Linked DNA regions of Homo sapiens. The main gene of each other region encodes a partner of the protein of the gene in region 2 in a complex. Each region holds a gene or a part of one and is shown on either strand. Other genes may lie near its edges.

Region 1 (7,024 bases), on a different chromosome or scaffold from region 2:
GGATACAACTCAGGCTCACCTGAATCTGACTGACAATTAAAATGTGTTTTGGGGCTGGGCGCGGTGGCTCATGCCTGTAATCCCAGCACTTTGGGAGGCCGAGGTGGGTGGATCACCTGAGACCAGTCTGGCAAACACGGTGAAACCCTGGCTCTACTAAAAATACAAAAATTAGCCGGGTGTGGTGGCAGGTGCCTGTAGTCCCACCTACTCGGGAGGCTGAGGCAGGAGAATCACTTGAACCCGGGAGGTAGAGGTTGCAGTGAGCCAAAATCACGCCACTGTATTCCAGCCTGGGCAACAGAGCAAGACGCCGTCTCAAAAAACAAAAAACAAACCAAACAAACAAAAAACGTGTTTTGGGGACTGTGCCACACTCATGACTCTGTAGAAGACACAAAATAGGCCTAAAGACCTATAGGTGAGATCCAGCTCTGCCATTTGTCAGAAGTGTAACCCTAGGTATATCTCCAGGCTTCCCTGAGCCTCCGTTCCCTCAACTACAAAGCTGAGTTTTGAAAATACAAGACAACAAAGCCAACAGTTACTGAGCACTTATTAGACATCAAGTGCTGGCCCAGGTGATTTCCCCACGGCAGCTCATGTTACCCCACAAAATCCTACAAGGTAAAGAGATGAAGTGACATAGCCATTCAGAGGCAGATCTGTCCCCAGAAACCCATGCCCTTTCCCTCTATTCTCCTGCTTGAGGTCACACCACGCTTACATGGCCTGGCTGGAGTTTGAACCCAGTTCTTTCTAACTCACACTCTTAACCACTGCACATTTCCTGAAATTGTTAAAAAGCAAATCAGGCCAGGTACAGTGGTTCATGTCTGTAATCCCAGCACTTTGGGAGGCCAAGGTGGGAGGACTGCTTGAGGTCAGGAGTTTGAGACCAGCCTGGGAAATGTAACAAGATCCTATCTCTACAAAAATTTTTAACAATTAGCCAGGTGTGGTGGTGCATGCCTGTGGTCCCAGCTACTTGGGAGGCTGAGGTGGGAGGATGGCTGGAGCCCAGGAGTTCAAGGCTGCAGTGAGCTATGATTATGACACTGCATTCCAGCCTGGGCAACAGAGTAAGACCCTGTCAAAAAAAAAAAAAAAAAAATGAACAAGGCAAAGTATGTCTAAATGCTGTCTCTATTGCCTAATACATAATAGAGACTCAGTACATGCTAAATCTGATTGACAGCTAAAATGTGTTTTGGGAGCTGTGCCACTGCTAAGCCACACTCCCTCCAGCACAGGGGCACATCTCACTCCTTTCCTGACAGAAGCTGTTGCATAAGTCCGACAAGACTTAATCTAGGCATTTCCATAAATGAACTATGTCCTGGCTGAAGCAGGAGAGTCCAGTGTCCTCTGACTCCTATTTTAACCCTAACAACCAGGCTCACTACTGCTCTCGCTTTCCCTGTAGCACTGGCTAAGAACAGCTTGCTGTGGACAAAACCCCACAGTCTCACTGCACACATGCCTGCTAGAGCTTGCTAATAAGCCTGACCTGTGTTTGTATCACAAGCCCAAGGCAGCAACTTTTGAGTGAACCAGATCCTAATCAACTCCAGGCAGGAACACCCAGTTTAATCAACTTTCCTCAACAGCCACAATGAAACACATATGGTATAAGCCAGGTACCCAACTGAAATGACATCCTGAGGGGGAGAGAGAGAATCTTTGTAGCACAAAGTGGTGGGACTTTCTTAGATACCTGGGGCCAAGATGGAGAAAGCTAGCTCCAGGACTGTGAAGGTGTGTTGGGGTGTCTCAGGCCTGTCAATACACCAGAAATGCATTCTTTAGGACAATTTCACACATACACAAAGGCAGAGGTGCTTGGATGCCACTGCTATAATACGAATACCAACTAAGGCCATCTACCTATCTTTGTTCTTAGGAAATACAAAAGTATTATGGGGTAGAGGAGCATGATGAATGCAATCCACACACAAACAGTACAGGAAAAAAAAAGTATACGATAAGTTTAAAAAACTGGTTTTCCTTCAACCTAGAGGGCTAGGTGTCTAAAGAAATTCAATTACATTGAATTCAGAGATTTCAAAAACTTTCCTAGCAATAGTTATGGGCAATTTTCTGACCCAATCATGTGAGAGCTTCTTTTGGGTTCTCATTTTTATACAGTGACACAAGACCATATTCCATACAGAGACCAGTTTTCCAAAGATGGCTATTATATGCCAAAGCCAACAAAACAGATTTCAAACAGTCCCATCAGTGATTGGGTGGTCATGTTGAAGCCCCAAAAGCACAATGTCTGCTTGTGCAGAGCTCTACACCACATTCTCCCACCAAAACTTCTAAGAATTAAGTCATTTTGAATGTAGTGAAATGGGTTTGACCATTACTCTCTGTATTTGCTTGTATCATTTATAATTTGGGTCCATTTTTATAAAACTGGGGACATATTTTGGAGTATTGTTATTTTTCTCACTTATGCCAACAGCATTTTGACCAACATGCCATATCCTGCAGCTGATGCCCTATCCTGCAGCACTGGCCACCAGTGCTTGGCTTGCAGCTGTCGGAATGAGAAGGAGAACAAAAGCTCCCTGCCTTCCCAGCTTAACCTCAGATGCACACCCTCTGACCCGATAAGCACCATTTCAGGGACCTCATCCTGAGTTTCACATACACATATTTCCTCTTCTTCCTTTAAAAAAAAAAATATATATATATATACACACACACACACATATATATACATACATATATACATACATACACACATACACACACACACACACACACACACACACACACACACATATATGAGACAGGGTCTCACTGTGTTGCCCAGGGTGGTCCCAAACTCTTGGGATCAAGTGATCCCCCTGGCCCAGCCTCCCAAAGTGCTGGGATTACAGGCATGAGCCAATGTGCCTGGCCATATTTTGCATTTTCAAATGTCAAAAACAGTGCTAAGATAACAGGATACTTTAAAACTACTTGAGGGACCATAAAAGGGTATTTTGTATGGGGATGTTGTCGAGGATATCATCTAATAGTGTCTCCTGTATCTGAGTGCCAGGGAAATCCACACAATTGCTATTTTAACTTAAGAACACTATGCATTTTGGAACTGATGATCTTCCCTGCTTAATCTTACACTGGAATATACCTTTATTCAATGTACAGAGAGATTCAGGTTTACATTTCTGGATACTGACTGCTTGGCTTCATTTTACATTCTACCCCAGCTTACCTGCACCATGATCTATGCATCTACTTTTATCCTGCCATAGAATTTTTTTAATTTTAGAGATAGGGTCTTGCTCTGTCACCCAGGCTGGAGTGCAGTGGTGCGACCAGAGCTTAATGCAGCCTGAACTGCTGGGTGGGCTCAAGTGATCCTTTTTGCCTCAGCCTATGGAGTAGCTGGGACTACAGGCATAAGCCATCACATCCAGATAATATATTTTTTATTTTTGGAGATGGAGTCTTGCTCTGTCGCCCAGGCTGGAGTGCAGTGGCGCGATCTTGGCTCATTGCAAGCTCTGCCTCCTGGGTTCACGCCATTCTCCTGCCTCAGCCTCCCGAGTAGCTGGGACTACAGGCGCCCGCCACCACACCTGGCTAATTTTTTGTATTTTTTTTAGTAGAGACAGGGTTTCACCGTGTTAGCCAGGCTGGTCTCAATCTCCTGACCTCGTGATCTGCCCGCCTCAGCCTCCCAAAGTGCTGGGATTACAGGCGTGAGCCACAGTGCCCAGCCCCACATCCAGATAATTTTTAAACTTTTTTGCTTTTCAGAAGAGACAGGGTCTAACTATTTCTGAAAGAGGATAGAATAAAAAGTAAATACTAAAACCCCAAAACAGGGCAGGTGTGGCTTAGGCCTGTAATTCCAATACTTTGGGAGGCCAAGGTGGGAGGATCGCTTAAGTCCAGGAGTGCAAGACTAGCCTGGGCAACAGAGTGAGATCCTCTATTTATCTTTTCCGAATCGTTGTGGTGTGCTTTTGTGTGTGTGTGAGACTAGGTCTCACTCCGTCGCCCAGGCTGGAGTGCAGTGGCACTCCATAGCTCACTGCAGCCTTGACTTCCTGGGCTCAAGTAATCGTCCCAACTCAGCCTCCACCTGAATGGCTGGGACTACAGGCATGTGCCACCACATCCGTCTATTTTATTTTTTTTACAGACAAAGTCTTGTCATGTTGCCCAGGTTGGTCTTGAACCCCTGGGCTCAAGTGATCCTCCTGCCTCAGCCTCTCAAAGTGTTGGGATTATAGGAGTAGCCACCACATTTTGTCCCACCCCACTTTTATAACAGAAAATGTTATTGAACAAGCAAGGAAAAGTGCTAAGAGGATGTTCTCATTCCCAAAAGGCAGAATGACTGGATCTGGGAAGGACAGGCAAGCCTCACAGCCTGAGATGTGCTGAACAAACTAAACTGTGCTCAGAGTTCACCCACCACCAGCTTTAGCTACGCCACAGTCTGCTGGCTCTTATTCAATGTGCCTAGGTTTTGATAGACCCAGTGAGGCCTCTACATCCTGTTACAGGCTAAATTGTATCCCTCAAAAAAATTCATTGTTGAAGTCCTAATACCCAGCACCTCAGAATGTGATCATATTTAGAGACAAAAAATCTTTACAGGCCAGATGTGGTGGCTCATGCCTGTAATTCCAGGAGTTTGAGAGACTGAGGCAGCAGGATCACTTGTGGCCAGGAGTTTGAAACTGGCCTGAAAAACATATCAAGACTCCGTCTCTACAAAAAAATTTAAAAATTAGCCAGGTATGGTGGGGCACACTGGTAGTCCTGGATACTTAGAAGACTGAGGTGAAAAGATCTCTTGAGCCCAGAAGTCCAAGGCTGCCCATGAGCTATGATCAAACCACTGCACCCCAGCCTGGTCAACAGACCAAAGCTTAATCTCAAAAAAAAAAAAAAAAAAAAAAAAAGAAAAGAAAAAGGAAAAGAAAAAAAAGGCTGGGTGCAGTGGCTCATGCCTGTAATCCTAGCACTTTGGGAGGCCAAGGTGGGCAGATTGCCTCAGCTCAGGAGTTAGAGACCAGCCTGGGCAACATGATGAGCCTCCATCTCTATTAAAAATACAAAAAATATTAACATTAGTGGGGTACGGTGGCCCATGCCTATAACCCCAGCTACTCAGGAGGCTGAGGCAAGAGAGTTGCTTAAACCCGGGAAGACGGAGGTTTGCAGTGAGCTGAGATTGTGCCACTGTACTCCAGCCTGGACAACAGAGCAAGATTCTGTCTCAAAAAAAAAAAAAAAAAAAAAAAAAAAAAAGGCCAGGTGCAGTGGCTCACGCCTGTAATCCTAGCACTTGGGAGGCTGAGGCAAACTCAGGAGTTTGAGACCAGCCTGGGCAACATGGGGAAACCCTATCTCTACTAAAAATACGAAAAACTAGCTGGGCATAGTCCCAGCTACTCAGGAGGCTGAGGCATGAGAAGTGCTTGAACCCAGGAGGCAGAGGTTGCAGTGAGCTGAGATCATGCCACTGCACTCCAGCCTGGGCGACAGAGTGAGACTCTCAAAAAAAAAAAAAAAAAAAAAAAAAAAAAAAAAAAAAAGCAAGCAAGCTGGGCATGGTGGCTCACATCTGTAATCCCAGCACTTTGGGAGGTCGAGGCGAGCAGATCACAAGGTCAGGAGTTCGAGACCAGCCTGGCCAATATGGTGAAACCTGTCTCTACTAAAAATATAAAAATACAAAAATTAGCTGGGCATGGTGGCAGATGCCTGTAGTCCCAGCTACTCAGGAGGCTGAGGCAGGAGAATCGCTTGAACCTGGAAGGCAGAGGTTGCAGTGAGCCAAGATCGCGCCACTGCACTCCAGCCTGGGTGACAGAGCAAGACTGCAGCCTGGGTGACAGAGCAAGGCTCCATCTCAAAAAAAAAAAAAAAAAAATTCTTTATAAACATAATTATGTTAAGATGAAGTCATTAGAGTGGGCCCTAATCCTACATGCATGGTATCCTTATAAGAAGAATCTGGACAGAAACACTACAGAGGGAAGACCAAGTGAAGACACAGGAAGAGAGCCATATATAAGCAAGGAGAGAGGCCTGAAACAGATCCTTCCTTCACATTCCTCAGAAGAAACCAGCCTTGCCAACACCTTGATCTCAGACTTCCAGCCTTCAGAACTATGAGAAAATAAATTTGTGTTGTCTAAGCTGCCCAGTCTGTGAAACTTTGTTATGGTAGCACTAGCATACAAATACAAGCAGGGAGGCAGGTGGCTGTCCCCCACCATTGGTCAGGCATGGTTCCTTCTGAGGCCAAGGTGCTATTTTTATCCCTGATTTAGAGGAGGGACCAGAGGATGAAGGAGGTCCAAAGCTAAGCTCGCCCCAAGTCACCCTAGGGGGCAGGCTACAAGCTGATTCCAGGTCTGTCGGACACCAAGGTCTGTGCACTTTGTGTCATGTTGACTGCATCTCTGAATGGCTACCAAGGTTATCTGGTTAGACACCTTCACGTTACGGATGGGATGACAAAGGCCCTGGAAACCCAGCAAGTTGTCCAAATACATACAGCTAATTGAACAAACCCATTAAGCTTCACTAACCCAAGTCTTGCATTCTCCTCACCAAATTAAAGAACCTTAAAGTGGATGAGCATGCCTTAAGCCAGAGGACTGGATATATGAGAGATGATAAACTTATCTACCCTCAATAGATAAACTGATCTATTGACAGTAATGCAATAAACCTGAGTCACCAGAGGTCTACTTCTCTGCATTCAGGGAACTGACCAAGCTTGTCAACCTCGCAGGAAGATGACAGACGCTCAAAGCTACAGAAAAATCACAAATAAATGAACCCTGCAAACCAATGGATGGTCAGGATGCCTGACCGCGGTGTAAGGTGCTTTACCTCTCTGACCTTCTCATCTGGAAAAAAGCAATAGGTATCATATGTTGAACACTCACAGTATGTGAGGCACTGAGCAGCTATGGCACACATACAGCTCATCTGATCTTTGTAAAAGTCCTGGGGGTGTGGATATTACCCCTGTGGC
Region 2 (7,024 bases):
TGCTCTGTCACCCAGGCTGGAGGGCAGTGGCGTGATCTCGGCTCACTGCAGCCTCTGCTTCCCAGGTTCATGTGATTCTCCTGCCTCAGCCTCCTGAGTAGCTGGGACTACAGGCATGTGCCACCACGCCTGGCTAATTTTTGTATTTTTAGTAGACACGGGGTTTCACCATCCTGGCCAGGCTGGTCTCGAACTCCTGATCTTGTGATCCACCCACCTTGGCCTCCCAAAGTGCTGGGTTTACAGGCGTGAGCCACCACGCCTGGTCAAAAATTACACTTTTTTTTGTAGAGACAGAATCTTGGGAGGCTGAGGCAGGAGGATTCCTTGAGCCCAGGAGCTGGAGGCTGCACTGAGCTATGATTGCCACTGCACTCCTGCTTGGGTGACAGAGTGAGACCCTGTCTCAAAAAAATAAATAAAAATATAGATCTTGGACAGACGCGGTGGCTCACGCCTGTAATCCCAGCACTTTGGGAGGCCGAGGCGGGCGGATCACGAGGTCAGGAGATCGAGACCATCCTGGCTAACACGGTGAAACCCCGTCTCTACTAAAAATACAAAAAAATTAGCCAGGTGTGGTGGCGGGCGCCTGTAGTCCCAGCCACTCGGGAGGCTGAGGCAGGAGGATGGCGTGAACCTGGGAGGTGGAGCTTGCAGTGAGCCGAGATTGCACAACTGCACTCCAGCCTGGGCGACAGAGCGAGACTCCATCTCAAAAAAAAAAAAAAAATAGATCTTTTTCCATACAGAAGAAATTTGTTATTATCACAAGGTGTTGTCTGAGTGAAATGAAGGCTGTTTTCCTTCTCCTTCTGACTGCTCTCTCAGGGTTGTGGGAGGGGCACCAGGGACCCTCTGAGAACTTTGTTTTGCACCTGGTCATGTCCAGCTGACTCTTAGCTTGGCCTGTCTCACAGGTGTCTGACTCCGTGAGTGGACAGACCGTCGTTGACCCCAAAGGCTACCTGACGGATTTAAATTCCATGATCCCGACACACGGAGGAGACATCAAGTGAGTGCTTTGCAGAATCGCTGGGCTGGGATGGAGACTCTAGTTGCCTAGGGTATTTTGGATTTTATATGGACAGTATGCTGTCAAAATGGGACATGGCGGTTCTAAGAAATGTAAAGTGGAGTAGTTTGTTTTTTCCATTTGAAATGTATCTGTATCCATTCATTGCGTACACTCAATGTGTTACATATGATACTGCAAAGTCCCTGCCTGTGCTGGGCAGGAAAGCAGCTGGCTGTGTCCCACATGTCCCATCTGGACCTTCGGTTCTCAGCGTTTGTCTGCGGGGAGGCTACAGAGGCTTGGAATAGTGCGCACTGAGGTTTTGAGTTGGTTTTTGTAACTCAGGACATCAGGACTGATAGTTCTTACATTGTGACTGTGAAGTGGGTGCCCTCATCCCAGGTCTCGGGTGCACCCCTGACAGCATGGCCTGATGCCGTGTGCACTCTCCCTCTCATAGTGATATCAAGAAGGCGCGACTGCTCCTCAAGTCTGTTCGGGAGACGAACCCTCATCACCCGCCAGCCTGGATTGCATCAGCCCGCCTGGAAGAAGTCACTGGGAAGCTACAAGTAGCTCGGAACCTTATCATGAAGGGGACGGAGATGTGCCCCAAGGTGAGGTATTTCCTGGGAGGCGTTTCCTGGGAGGCTGCGTGATTGTGGCCCCTACGGGAGTAAACTTGTTAGAGCAAATCTCTTTGTCTTTTGGTATTGAAACTACAGACAATAGGGCAGGCTGGGGGAGGATGTGAAAAGCAGCCAAGGGCTTTTTCCTGCTTGTTTTCATGTGGAGTGAAGGCTAATCCACCACTTTTTTTTTTTTTGGAGACGGAGTCTCGCTCTGTCACCCAGGCTGGAGTGCAGTGGCACGATCTCGGCTCACCGCAAGCTCCACCTGCCAGGTTCACACCATTGTCCTGTCTCAGCCTCCAGAGTAGCTGGCACTATAGGCGCCCGCCACCATGCCTGAATCCACCACGCCTGAATCCACCACTGGTTTGACGGCAGGCTAAGCTTCATTATAAAGAGCTCAGTTGGTCAGCTCTTCACCCGCCTAATGGTGGCCAGTCACGGTGGCTCACGCCTGTAATCCCAGCACTTTGGGAGGCTGAGGCGGGTGGATCACTTGAGGTCAGGAGTTAGAAACCAGCCTGGCCAACATGGCGAAACCCCGTCTCTACTAAAAATATGAAAGTTAGCCAGGCGTCGTGACAGGTGCCCATAATCCCAGCTATTCGGTAGGTGGAGGTTGCAGTGAGCTGAGATTGCACCATGCTGCTCCAGCCTGGGCGACAGAGCGAGATTCCGTCTCAAAAAAAAAAAAAAAAACAACAAAAAAGAACGACCCGAGCAGATGTGCAGTCTCTGCTTTGTCCATGGAGTTGTCCTGAAGGAAATCATGCTCTTTTCACAAAGTGGTGTTTCATTTTTTTTTTTTCTTTTTTTTTGAGTCTCGCTCTGTTGCCCAGGCTGAAGTACAGTGGCGTGATCTCAGCTCACTGCAACCTCTGCCTCCCGGGTTCAAGCAATTCTCCTGCCTCAGCCTCCTGAGTACCTGGGATTATAGGCACCTGCCACCACACCCGGCTAATTTTTGTAGTTTTAGTAGAGACAGGGTTTTGCCATGTTGGCCAGGCTGGTCTCAAACTCCTGACCTCATGATCCACCTGCCTCGGCCTCCCAAAGGGCTGGGATTACAGGCGTGAGCCACCGCGCCCGGCCATTAGGTGTTCTTCAGTCAGACATATGGTAGCCATGTTCCCAAGTGTGGTTATAAGGGGGCGACTCCTGGTGCAGGTGTGTTAGAGGCTGAGCTAATTGGCTTTCGTAAATTCTGGGGCCCGAGGATCTGCTCTGGAGATCTGTGCCTGCTGCCCTGTTGCGGCTTCCAGCCTGCACTGAGCCTTATTGGTCTTATCTCTTGCCTCACAGAGTGAAGATGTCTGGCTGGAAGCAGCCAGGTTGCAGCCTGGGGACACAGCCAAGGCCGTGGTAGCCCAAGCTGTCCGTCATCTCCCACAGTCTGTCAGGATTTACATCAGAGCCGCAGAGCTGGAAACGGACATTCGTGCAAAGAAGCGGGTTCTTCGGAAAGGTGAGCCTCCCTCGGAGGTGCTGCTTTCTCCCTCCTTGGGGCCCCTCCTCTCAGCAGCTTTCCTGCTCCTGGCTCAGGCTTTTGGTGAGAGTGGATAAGGAACCAGGGACATTTTTCAGGCCTTTTCTCAGGCTGGGTTGCCTCTGCCCTTGGACCCCCATGGGGGAGGGATACTGTGGTGGGCAAGTTCCCATCCTGGAAGGGATGCTTGGGTTGAGCCCTCACTCCTGCCTTTTTCCAGTGTGTGATCTTGGATGCTTGGGCGGTCACTCTGGTCCAGGCTTCCCTCATCTGCAGGGTGAGAACAACGGTAGCTCAAAGCCTGTGTCCTGGGGCTCTGGAGATGGTCTGTGTGAAGAGCTGAGCCGGCACCTGGCACGTGCAGACCCGTTGTGGGTGTTACTCATTTTCTCTCCTGAGAAGGCACCAGAGCCACACGTTGATTGAACTCTTTCCTGCTGCTGACGAGGCTGTGCCTTCTGCTCCCGCGATGCAGCGTGTGCCGTCAGCTCAGGTCAGATAACGACAGACGGTGTGCCTACCAGGCAACCTGATTCCATCCAGGGATTCCTGCCAGGGTAGAGCTTTTGTGGGTAGTTTGTTTATTTTTATTACTGTGGATTCATAAAAGGAGCACTGTTTCTCCTGTCACTGGAAGTGTGTAGTAGATGCTGCTCTTGAACTGGGTCCAGAACGAGTGCTAGTCAGGGGGCTGTTCTGAAGCTAATCTGTGCAGGTGGCTTCTTTTTTTTCATTTTTTGTTTTTTTTTTCTGGTTTTTTTTTTTTTTTTTTTTTTGAGATGGAGTCTCGCCCTGTCGCCCAGGCTGGAGTGCAGTGGCGTGATCTCGGCTCACTGCAAGCTCCGCCTCCCGGGTTCACACCATTCTCCTGCCTCAGCCTCCTGAGTAGCTGGGACTACAGGCGCCTGCCACCACGCCTGGCTAATTTCTTTTTGTATTTTTAGTAGAGATGGGGTTTCACTGTGTTATCCAGGATGGTCTCGATCTCTTGGCCTTGTGATCTGCCTGCCTCGGCCTCCCAAAGTGCTGGGATTCCAGGCGTGAGCCACTGCACCTGGCCTATGCAGGTGGCTTCTATCCATTTTTTTTTTTTTAGACAGAGTCTCGCTTTGTCGCCCAGGCTGGAGTACAGGGGCACGATCTTGGCTCACTGCAGCCTCTGCCTCCCGGGTTCAAGTGATTCTCCTGCCTCAGCCTCCCGAGTAGCCGGGATTACAGGTGTGCGCCTCCATGCCTGGCCAATTTTTGTATTTTTAGTAGAGATGGGGTTTCCCCATGTTGGCCGGGCTGGTCTCAAACTCCTGACCACAAGTGATCCTCCTGCCTTGGCCTCCCAAAGTGCAGGGATTACAGGCGTGAGCCCCTGTGCCTGGCCTTTTCTTTTCTTTTTTTTTTTTTTTTGAGATGGAGTCTCACTTTGTCCCCCAGGCTGGAGTGCAATGGCACCATCTTGGCTCACTGCAACCTCCGCCTCCTGGGTTTAAGCAATCCTCTTGCCTCAGCCTTCTGAGGAGCTGGGACTACAGGCACCTGCCACCACGCCTGCTTAATTTTTGTATTTTTAGTAGAGACGGGGTTTCACTGTGTTGACCAGGCTGGTCTTGAACTTCTCACCTCAAGTGATCCACCCACCTCGACCTCCCAAAGTGCTGGGATTACAGGCGTGAGCCACTGTGCCCGGCCAGATTTTTTTTTTTTTTTTGAGACAGCGTCTTGCTCTGTCACCCAGGCTGGAGTGCAGTGGCACGATCTTGGCTCACTGCAGCCACCACCTCCCAGGCTCAGGCGATCCTCCCAGCTTAGCCTCCCAAGTAGCTGGGAGTATAGGTCCCACCCCCATGCCCAGCTATTTTTAATTTTTGGTAGAGATGGGATCTTGCTGTGTTGTCCAAGCTTGTCTCAAACTCCCATCCTCAAGTGATCCTCCTGCCTTGATCTCCCAGAGAGCTGGGATTACAGGCATCAGCCGTCGCATCCAGCCTATTCTTCCTGAATTTATAGCCTAGGAAAAATAAAGTGTATTTTATGGAATCAAGGGCAGTTTTCAGTGAGAGCTTTCCAGCTCTTGTTTTTCCAAATGTCTTTAAGCGAAATATCCCATTGAGGCTTCTGTGCTGATAGGACCGTGCAGATGAGGGCTCTTTGGTAGAAAGCCCCTTATCAAATATAGTTTCATTCACTTACTGTCTACGTCTGTTAGAAGACAGGTGAAGGCTGCTTGCCTGTGATGCATGTTCCCCCGACCCTGTGCACTCACATGTGAACGTGCTTTCCTCTGTCGAGGCTGGTTTCTTGACCGCAGCCCAGCTGCTCAGTGAATGCTCAGAGACAGCCTCTTTTATTTTTTTTTATTGAGACAGAGTCTCGCTCTGTCGCCCAGCCTGGAGTGCAGTGGCACGACCTCGGCTCTCTGCAAGCTCCGCCTCCCAGGTTCACGCCATTCTCCTGCCTCAGCCCCCCAAGTAGCTGGGACTACAGGCGCCCGCCACCAGGCCTGGCTAATTTTTTTTTGTATTTTTATTAGAGATGGGGTTTCACCATGTTAGCCAGGATGGTCTTGATCTCCTGACCTCATGATCCACCCGCCTCGGCCTCTCAAAGTGCTGGGATTACAGGCGTGAGCCACCGCGCCCGGCCAGAGACAGCGTCTTATAATGAGGTGGCCAGGAACAGAAAGTTAGCACCTGTCTGGGTTTGTAGAAATCAGTTTATCTTTTTTCAGCTAGGAAGAAATAGTTCTTTGATGAAGAGCCCATGAAAGTCTGGGTAATTAGTATTGTTTACTTAGAAAAGCTCTATTGAATTCTTCCTGCCACAGTTTGATGAATGATCATGAATGTCTTTGTGGCCACTCCCTGCTCACCACCAGATTGTCTGGGTTCATTTCCAGTTGGTTTGGATTTGGAGATGGGAGTATGCTGTTGGAGGCGGGGGCCTTCGGGGAGTGTTGAGGGACTGTGTTTCCACGGCTGTTCTCTCAGGGAGTGGCCTCCTGGCTGTGCTCTCTCAGGCAGAGAAGCTGGGCTAAGGTGGAATGAACCCAGGATCTCCAGGATGGCCTTTGCCGCTGCCCTAATACTGGTCCTGGCCTGCCCTTTCCCAAGAGTGTTTCCAAAAACTGTATTCTTTTCCTGGGGTGAAGCCCAGCACTGCTTCATTTGGTTATTAGCAAACACTTACACGTTGCTTGAAGGGTCTGGTTTTTGAAATTAAGATGACAGCTACTTCCACTGGTGACTTAGGACACCTGCCAGCCAGGGAGCCTGGCAGTGCATGGTCTCTGTGAGCTCTGGGTCGCTGTTGGGCTGAGCTGACACCTTAGTCCTTTGTTGGGAGAATGGGCGTTTTGGGTGCTGATCTTGAGACCTGAGGAGGCTGAGTAACCTTAGGCATGGTGCTTGGCCTCTGAGCTTCCATGTCTTCCTCTGTAAAAGGGAAGAGGGCTTTCAGGATTGGGGAGGGTGCAGCATGTGAGCTTCCTGGCCAGGGTGGGGTGTCCCACGTGCAGAGTCCCCTGGGGAGGCCCGACTGGCAGCTCCCCTACAATAATGCACTCACATGCTGTGTACTCCGCTAGTTAATGCAGATGTGTGGAAGTGGAGTTATTTTACACTAACGCCATATGCTCTGGCCTGTGAAGCGTGGCATCCTTCAGTGGCCGTCGCCAGCGTGTCCCTCTGGGGGCACAGGAATGGCACAGTTCAGGTTGAGGGTCTTCCCTGCAGTCACGTGACCCCCGGAGAGCATGTTGGCCTCTGCACGGTCACGTCTTCATGGCTGTGTCTAGCATTCAGAATACTCTTCTGTTCTAGGCCAACTTCAGGGGTGTGTGCTTCCTCCACTTCTGCTCATAAAGTCACACTCCTTGAAGGCCATTGTATCATGGTG
Region 3 (6,995 bases), on a different chromosome or scaffold from region 2:
AAGCTGGGGGTCCTCAAATTCAATTCCGTTCCAACACTAACTACCTGGAGATAGCGTCAGATCCCACAGACTGAGGACTCAGTCGCACAAGCCTGCCTCCCACTTCATGATGCCAGTCACAAGCACAGGTTGTTTGACCTGTGCTTCTCACTATACAGCTATAAATCGAGGTTTCCACAATCCCCTTTTGGGGTTCAACTAATTTTCTAGAGCAGATCAGGGAAACACTTATTTTTACTATAAGGCATATTACAAAAGATGCCTACCAAAAGACAACAGATGGAAGAGGTACACAGGGCAGGCATGTGGGAATGGGTGTGGCGCTACCAGGCCCTCTCAGGCGCACCACCCTCCAGAAACCTCCATGTGTGCAGCTATCCACAAACTCTCTAAACCTAGTCCTTTTGGGGTTTTTATGGAGGCTTCATTATGTAGGCATGATTGATTAAATGACCAGCCTCCATTCTGAACTACCTAAGTGCTGCCAGCCATCAGTCAACTCATCAGCATACAAAAAGATACTTAGCACTTCGAAGATTCCAAGGATCTTAGAAGCTGTATGCCAGAAAATGAAATAAAGACCTAATATATATTTCACAATATCACACTCACCTGGTCCCCAAGAGCAGCCTGGATGAAGCTGAGTAGCACCTCATAGGTCTCCCGAGTCTCTTTAGTTTTGGGCTTGTAGATGATGCCCACCATCTCATCAATGCCCTCCGACAGCAGAGTATAACCCTTCATCTTGTTGATGTCATGCCGGTCCTCATCACGCTTTCTTCGCCTAATGGACATGCAATGTGATATTGAATGGCAGAACCTTTCGTCCCCAAGGGAAGACTGGATCAAGCCCACCCTCCTCTCCTCAGCTTCATGGCAAGAAGTTAATATCTGAAAACAGGTATCTGAGCCTCAGCAAATGATTCCGTTTGGCCTTAATCACTTGCAGGAGTATTTCTTTATGGGACACAGTGACAAAAAGAAAAATTCCCTATCATCTTCTCACTAGATGCACTAAACATTACAATGAGATGTTTCTCATTTAAAAAATACAACCCTTTGGCCAGGTGCAGTGGTTCACGCCTGTAATCCCAACATTTTGGGAGGCCAAGGCAGGCGGATCACCTGAGGTCAGGAGTTCAAGACCAACCTGGCCAACATGGAGAAACCCTGTATCTACTAAATATACAAAAATTAGCCGGGCACAGTGGCGAGCGCCTGTAATCCCAGCTACTCAGGAGGCTGAGGCAGGAGAATCGCTTGAACCCGGGAGGTGGAGGTTGCCGTGAGAGAGATCACGCCACTGCACTCCAGCCTGGGTGACAGAGTGAGATTCCGTCTCAAAAAAAAAAAAAAAAAAAGTACAACCCTTCATACATTGTATGAGACTATTATATAATAGGATTTTGACTAGTTTTTCACCTCTCCAATGCATTTTCCCTTTCTAGCTAGAGAACCAAGCTCTAACAGAATCTACTGCCGTTGACTATCAACAAAGTATAACAAAACTGGAAAAGAAGATATAGCACAAAGTGGAGATAATGTATTAACTCATTTCAAACATAACTACTTTAATCAAACTAAGCCTAGGAATTTTGGAAACTTCATCATAGGAAAGGGAGCAAGACACCAAGATATTCAGGATCAAAAGATAATGATGAGGTAAAGGTAAGTTTTTGAAACATATCCCCAAGAAATCTTAAAAAAAAAAAATAAAGGAAAAAAATGCAAACTAAGAAAGAAACCTGTCTTTCATACTATGGATGCTTAAATTAGTTTGTTACAACAAAATAGGTAGAACGTGGACAAGAGTAAATGGAAAAAGTAGGGGTAGGAAGTTAGTAATGGGAAAAAAGGAAAACGAATTACTGGGACATAGGAATAGCAAGGGTCTTGAAAATACCCTGAAGAAAATTAAGATCTGTCTATGGACCAGAAACACACATGTAAGAAAAAGGTACCAACAAGTTATTTTCCACTTGAGATGCACTTGTTAAGGCCAAAAAATCTTTAAACTCTCCTGGTCTGTTTTTACCTTCACTGAATTGTTTTAATGCCACTGATCTTACACCAAGCATTCCAGCAAAAATGCTGCTCGAATGTTAAAGGGAAGAGACTTTGGATCTGAAGGAAAAAATAGTATCCCCTTGGCACTCACTTGGCTCTTCTTTCCTCCTGCATCTGCGGTTTGGTCCGTTGAGCCTTGTCTCCCATACGGGTGCCCTCCAGCTTCCCAACAAGGGACAGCACCTCTCCTGTGGGTTCATCCCGGCGGGTCCGGTCAATGAGAGAACGGTCAGCTTGGAGCACAAGATTCGAGTTCTGAAAAGATCAAAACATTATTGAAGCTTTGACATGAGCAGGGCCAATTCCTACTATCATAGTTACCCCAGCTGATGGAAAAAATCGTAGTAACTAGTTGCTTATCATCACTAATCGTAATAAAAATATATTTTCCTTAAGAATTGCATAGTATAACGCTGTGCAGAAGCGTACAGCTGAATAAGTCTTATGCGCTGTCGAATCAGCTAAACAATTCTTGTTCCTAACAGCGCCCATCATAACCCACACCTGTGAAAAGTAGTGAGTGGGTTGGGAGTGACGTGTGGAAGGGGGAGGGCTTAGCGTTGAAGGTACTCGAGAAACTCCTCCTAGAGAGATCTTAGCGCTCCCCAGACCCCAGTAGGTTATTCACGTCATCGTATAACCCCCACCTTCACCCCGATTCCATTTCCCCTTCGTTTTCGTGGCTCTCCTGTAGGCCTTCAGACTGAAACTCCCTTTTTCAGCCTCCCCCTCCCCATTGGACTCCTGAGCCTGGAATCCTTCCCCAAGACCAAACGCACCGCCTTGTACTCGTATTGCAGACTACGGGCGGTTACATCCGCCATGGCCGCGGCTGCTCGGAGGCTTCAGACCACCACGCCTCCCTACCGCAAGCTGCAAACGGCCGCAGATCTCTGCTCCCGCCGCGCCGGAACGACGCAGGAAAGACGCACTGGGGAAGGAAAAGAAACGGGTTCCCTTCCGCTTCCGGGTCGCGCCCCAGAAGTGCGGGGCGGGGCGTGTCTGGGGCGTGTCCCTGCCGTGTGCGCGCGGCTTTCCGCACCCTTCTGAGCGGGATATGTGGGCCTGGTGCGTCTGGGTCCCCGAATCCCTAGACCCCCGCACTCTGGTTCTGGCCGCCCGCTGGCACTAAGGACCCAGGGCCCGTGCTCTCCCCGACCTCAGTCTCCAGCCCCCGGCACCCCTCACATCATAACGAATGCACGGCTGCTTAGCCCCTGTCCTGTCCCAAGACCTTTCCTTCCGGTTCCTTCCTCTTTGGCAACAGTCCCATGAGGTAGGCAGGAAAAGAGGGGCCGAAAACCCCATTTCCGTTTGAGGTAACTAAAGTACCCAGCGAGCAAGGTGACTTGCGCGTGTGTCTGTGTTTGTGTGTTTTAATGATTGGCGCCTTGCTTTGGGTTTCTCTTCTGTGTTCAACAATTGAAAAAGAAAGCTACTATCCCCCACCAATCCCACCTAAACCTGTGCCCCCAAGACCCTCGTTTTCACCCAGCTGAACGAACAGGGCCGGGGCCCCCATTTGCTCCCACTTGTCGGTAACATTCTATGGTAGGGCCCTCCCTGCCGCCCAGGGAAACCGGTGAAGGCAGGGCCAAATCCTTGGTGACTATGACTTAATTTCTTCCCCAGCTACAAAGTCTTCTCTGTCCCACATTCCCCACCACTTCTCGCCAGTAGAATGGCGCCTTATGGCTGAAGGTGACCTCCCTCCTCACTTAGAGCATGTTTGCTTTTGAGAAGATGAATGAACAGGAGGATGGGTGTTAAGCCAAAGGAATTCATCCTCAATAGCAGTCCCCTAGACCAGATTTGTTCTGTAGTGGTATCGTGTTTGGCTCACTGTTGGCTCCTTCTTTAAAAATTGGGATAATTTCATGCAAACTCTGGCTCTCCCCCATCAGTTGAGATACTAGAAAATCAGCCACATGACACCCACACTGCTGCATGGCATGACCTGCTGCTGGTCAGCAGCTGCCAAGGTCAGAGAATAGGCAAGTCCTTCCCACTGCTCCTGTTTTCTCATGCCTGCCCATCTCCTTATTTTTACTTGCCCAGCCCCTGTAGGCATGGAGTTTGCTGCTTTGGTGGGTGTTTGTTTTTTTTTTAATAACTCGTCTTCCCAAGGGACAGTCGAGTCCTCATGGCTCTGCTCCTCAGTGGCTGTGTGACTTTGAAGTAGCTAGCTACCTGGCCTCTCGGTGAGCACCATTTTCCTCATCCTTAAAATTGAGGCAATTGGCTGGACACGCTGGCTCACGCCTGTAATCCCAGCACTCTGGGAGGCCAAGGCAGGCGGATCACTTGAGGTCAGGAGTTTGAGACCAGCCTGGCCCACATGGTGAAACCCTGTCACTACTAAAAATACAAAAATTAGCCAGGCGTGGTAGTGGGTGCCTGTAATCCCAGCTACTCAGGAGGCTGAGGCAGGAGAATCACTTGAACCTGGGAGGTGGAGGTTGCAGTGAGCCGAGATCAAACTCTGCACTCCAGCCTGGATGACAGAGTGAGACTCTTTGTCTTAAAAAAAAAAAAATTGAGGCAATAAAACCTTCCTCCCATTGTGATTAAATGGGATAGTGTGTTTAAAAGCACCTAGCAAAGTGCCTGACTCAAGGTGGGGTTCACTGAAAGTTATTGAAATCTGAATCCTTAAGGCTGACTTTTATTCCATGATCAGGCTGTGGCCCACCCACCTGACACGAAAGGGTCTCAAAGGTATTTCGGAGATTCCACTCTGTTTCTGTAGAAGTAGCATTCATGTTCACAGATGCAGCTGGGCTGTGGGCAAACCTGTGAAGCAAGAAAAAAAGGAAACTTTCCCCATCTTTTCTTTTCCTCTCTAATCAGGCTCTACCAAATGTAAATCCTGCATTTAGTCATTCAGATGGACTTATAAGTTTCCATAGTATGTTAGACCTGGTAGGAGCCTTAGAGATGGAGTAGTCTGGTTCCCTTATTTTCCACAAGAGGAGACTGCAGCCCTGGAACAATCGTCACACTAAAATGTAAATAAGGAAGAAAATAATTATGATTTTGAAAAGAAAACAACAGGCTGGGTGTGGTGGCTCATGCCTATAACCCCAACACTTTAGGAGGCTGAGGAAAGAAGATTGCTTGAGGCCAGGAGTTTGAGACCAGCTTGGGTAACATAGTGAGGCCCTGTTTCTACAAAAAATTAAAAAGTAGCCAGGCCTGGTAGTGTGTGCCTGTAGTCCCAACAACTTGGAAGGCTGAGGCAGGAGGATTGCTTGAGCCCAGGACTTCAAGGCTGCAGTGAGCTAGGATTGTGCCACTGCACTCCAGGCTGACCCACATAGCAAGACTCTTCCCTCAAAAAATAAAAACAATTTTTAAATTAAAGATAGAAAAGAAAAATGACAGCCGTGCTTCCTCACTCTGCGGAAGGGGCTCAGGGAAACTTCCTGGGCCAACTTGTTGAAAATGGGGGAAGGTGTCTAGTGAAGACAAGTCAAAGGAGTCACTGCCCCACATGAGAAAGGAAAGAGGAGCTGGGGTTAGACTGGGATGTAGAAAAGGGAAGAGAAAAGTCTTCAGGAAGCAAGAGAGGCCCAGGAAAATGACAGTCAGCCAGGACCTAAAGGAGCCACAAGCAAAGAGAAATTTATTTTACTTTTTTTTTTTTTTTTTTGAGATGGGGGATCTCACTGTGTTGCTCAGGCTGGAGTGCAGTGGCACGATCATGGCTTACTGCAGCCTCAATCTCTTCAGGCTCAGGTGATCCTTCTACTTCAGCCTCCCAAGTAGCTGGGACTACAGGCACACACCACACCCAGCTAATTTTTTGTATTGTTAGTAGAGATGGGGTTTTGGCATGTTGCCCAGGCTGCTCTCGAACTCCTGGGGTCAAGCGATCCACCCACCTCAGCCTCTCAAAGTGTTGGGATTACAGGCTGAGCCACCTTTCCTGGTCTGGGCAAAGAATTTGAACAGACGTTTCTCCAGAGAAAATATACACTGGCCAATAAGCACATGAAAAAATGCTCAACAGCCATGCGTGGTGGTTCACCCCTGTAACCCTAGCACTTAGGGAGGCCGCGGCGGGTGGATCACGAGGTCAGGAGTTTGAGACCAGCCTGGCCAACATGATGAAACCCTGTCCCTACTAAAAATACAAACATTAGCTGGGCGTGGTGGCGTGAGCCTGTAGTCCTAGCCACTCGGGAGGCTGAGGCAGGAGAATCACTTAAACCCAGGAGGCGGAGGTTGCAGTGAGCTGAGAGCATGCCATTGCACTCCAGCCTGGGCAAAAAGAGTGAACCTCCATCTCAAACTAAATAAATAAATAAAAATAAAAATTAGCTGGGCATGGTGGCACATGCCTGTAATCCCGGCCACTCGGGAGGCTGAAGCAGGAGAATTGCTTGAACCTGGGAGGCAGAGGTTGCGGTGAGCCAAGATCGTGCCATTACACTCCAGCCTGAGTGACAGTGCGAGACTCCTCAAAAAAAAAAGAAAGTTAAACATAGAGTTACCCTATGACCCAGCGATTCTACTCCTAGGAATCTACCCAACAGAACTGAAAACATGTCTACATAAACATTTGTACACAAATGTCCATAGCAGCACTACTCACAATAGCCAAAATATTGCAACAACCCAAATGTTCATCAGCTGATGATGGATAAGCAGAATGTGCTATTTCTATACAATACAATATATTATTCAACCACAAAAAGCAATGAAGTACTGCTGTGTGCCACAACATGAATGAATCTCAAAAACATATTAAGGCCAGGGACAGTGGCTCATGCCTGTAATCCCAACCCTTTGGGAGGCTGAGATGGGCAGATCACTTGAGGTCAGGAGTTCAAGACCAGCCTGGCCAACATGGTGAAATCCTGTCTCTATTTTTTATTTTTTTATTTTTGAGATGGAGTCTTGCTGTTGCCCAGGCTGGAGTGCAG

Evidence for each region. The genes of interacting proteins can lie anywhere in the genome.
Region 1: PRPF6 (region 2) and SNRPD3 share a complex: the UniProt entries of both Homo sapiens proteins name them as parts of the U4/U6-U5 tri-snRNP complex.
Region 3: PRPF6 (region 2) and SNRNP200 share a complex: the UniProt entries of both Homo sapiens proteins name them as parts of the U4/U6-U5 tri-snRNP complex.

The regions. Positions count from the first base shown.
Region 1 is NC_000022.11:24,558,975-24,565,998, reverse strand, and holds part of SNRPD3 (small nuclear ribonucleoprotein Sm D3), read right to left. Parts: intron 1-7,024. UniProt on the Homo sapiens protein: Plays a role in pre-mRNA splicing as a core component of the spliceosomal U1, U2, U4 and U5 small nuclear ribonucleoproteins (snRNPs), the building blocks of the spliceosome.
Region 2 is NC_000020.11:63,998,125-64,005,148, forward strand, and holds part of PRPF6 (pre-mRNA-processing factor 6), read left to right. Parts: intron 1-920; coding exon 921-1,015; intron 1,016-1,478; coding exon 1,479-1,635; intron 1,636-2,952; coding exon 2,953-3,115; intron 3,116-7,024. UniProt on the Homo sapiens protein: Involved in pre-mRNA splicing as component of the U4/U6-U5 tri-snRNP complex, one of the building blocks of the spliceosome.
Region 3 is NC_000002.12:96,302,547-96,309,541, forward strand, and holds the start of SNRNP200 (U5 small nuclear ribonucleoprotein 200 kDa helicase), read right to left. Parts: upstream 3,001-6,995; 5' UTR 2,892-3,000; coding exon 2,847-2,891; intron 2,323-2,846; coding exon 2,159-2,322; intron 785-2,158; coding exon 613-784; intron 1-612. UniProt on the Homo sapiens protein: Catalyzes the ATP-dependent unwinding of U4/U6 RNA duplices, an essential step in the assembly of a catalytically active spliceosome. Plays a role in pre-mRNA splicing as a core component of precatalytic, catalytic and postcatalytic spliceosomal complexes.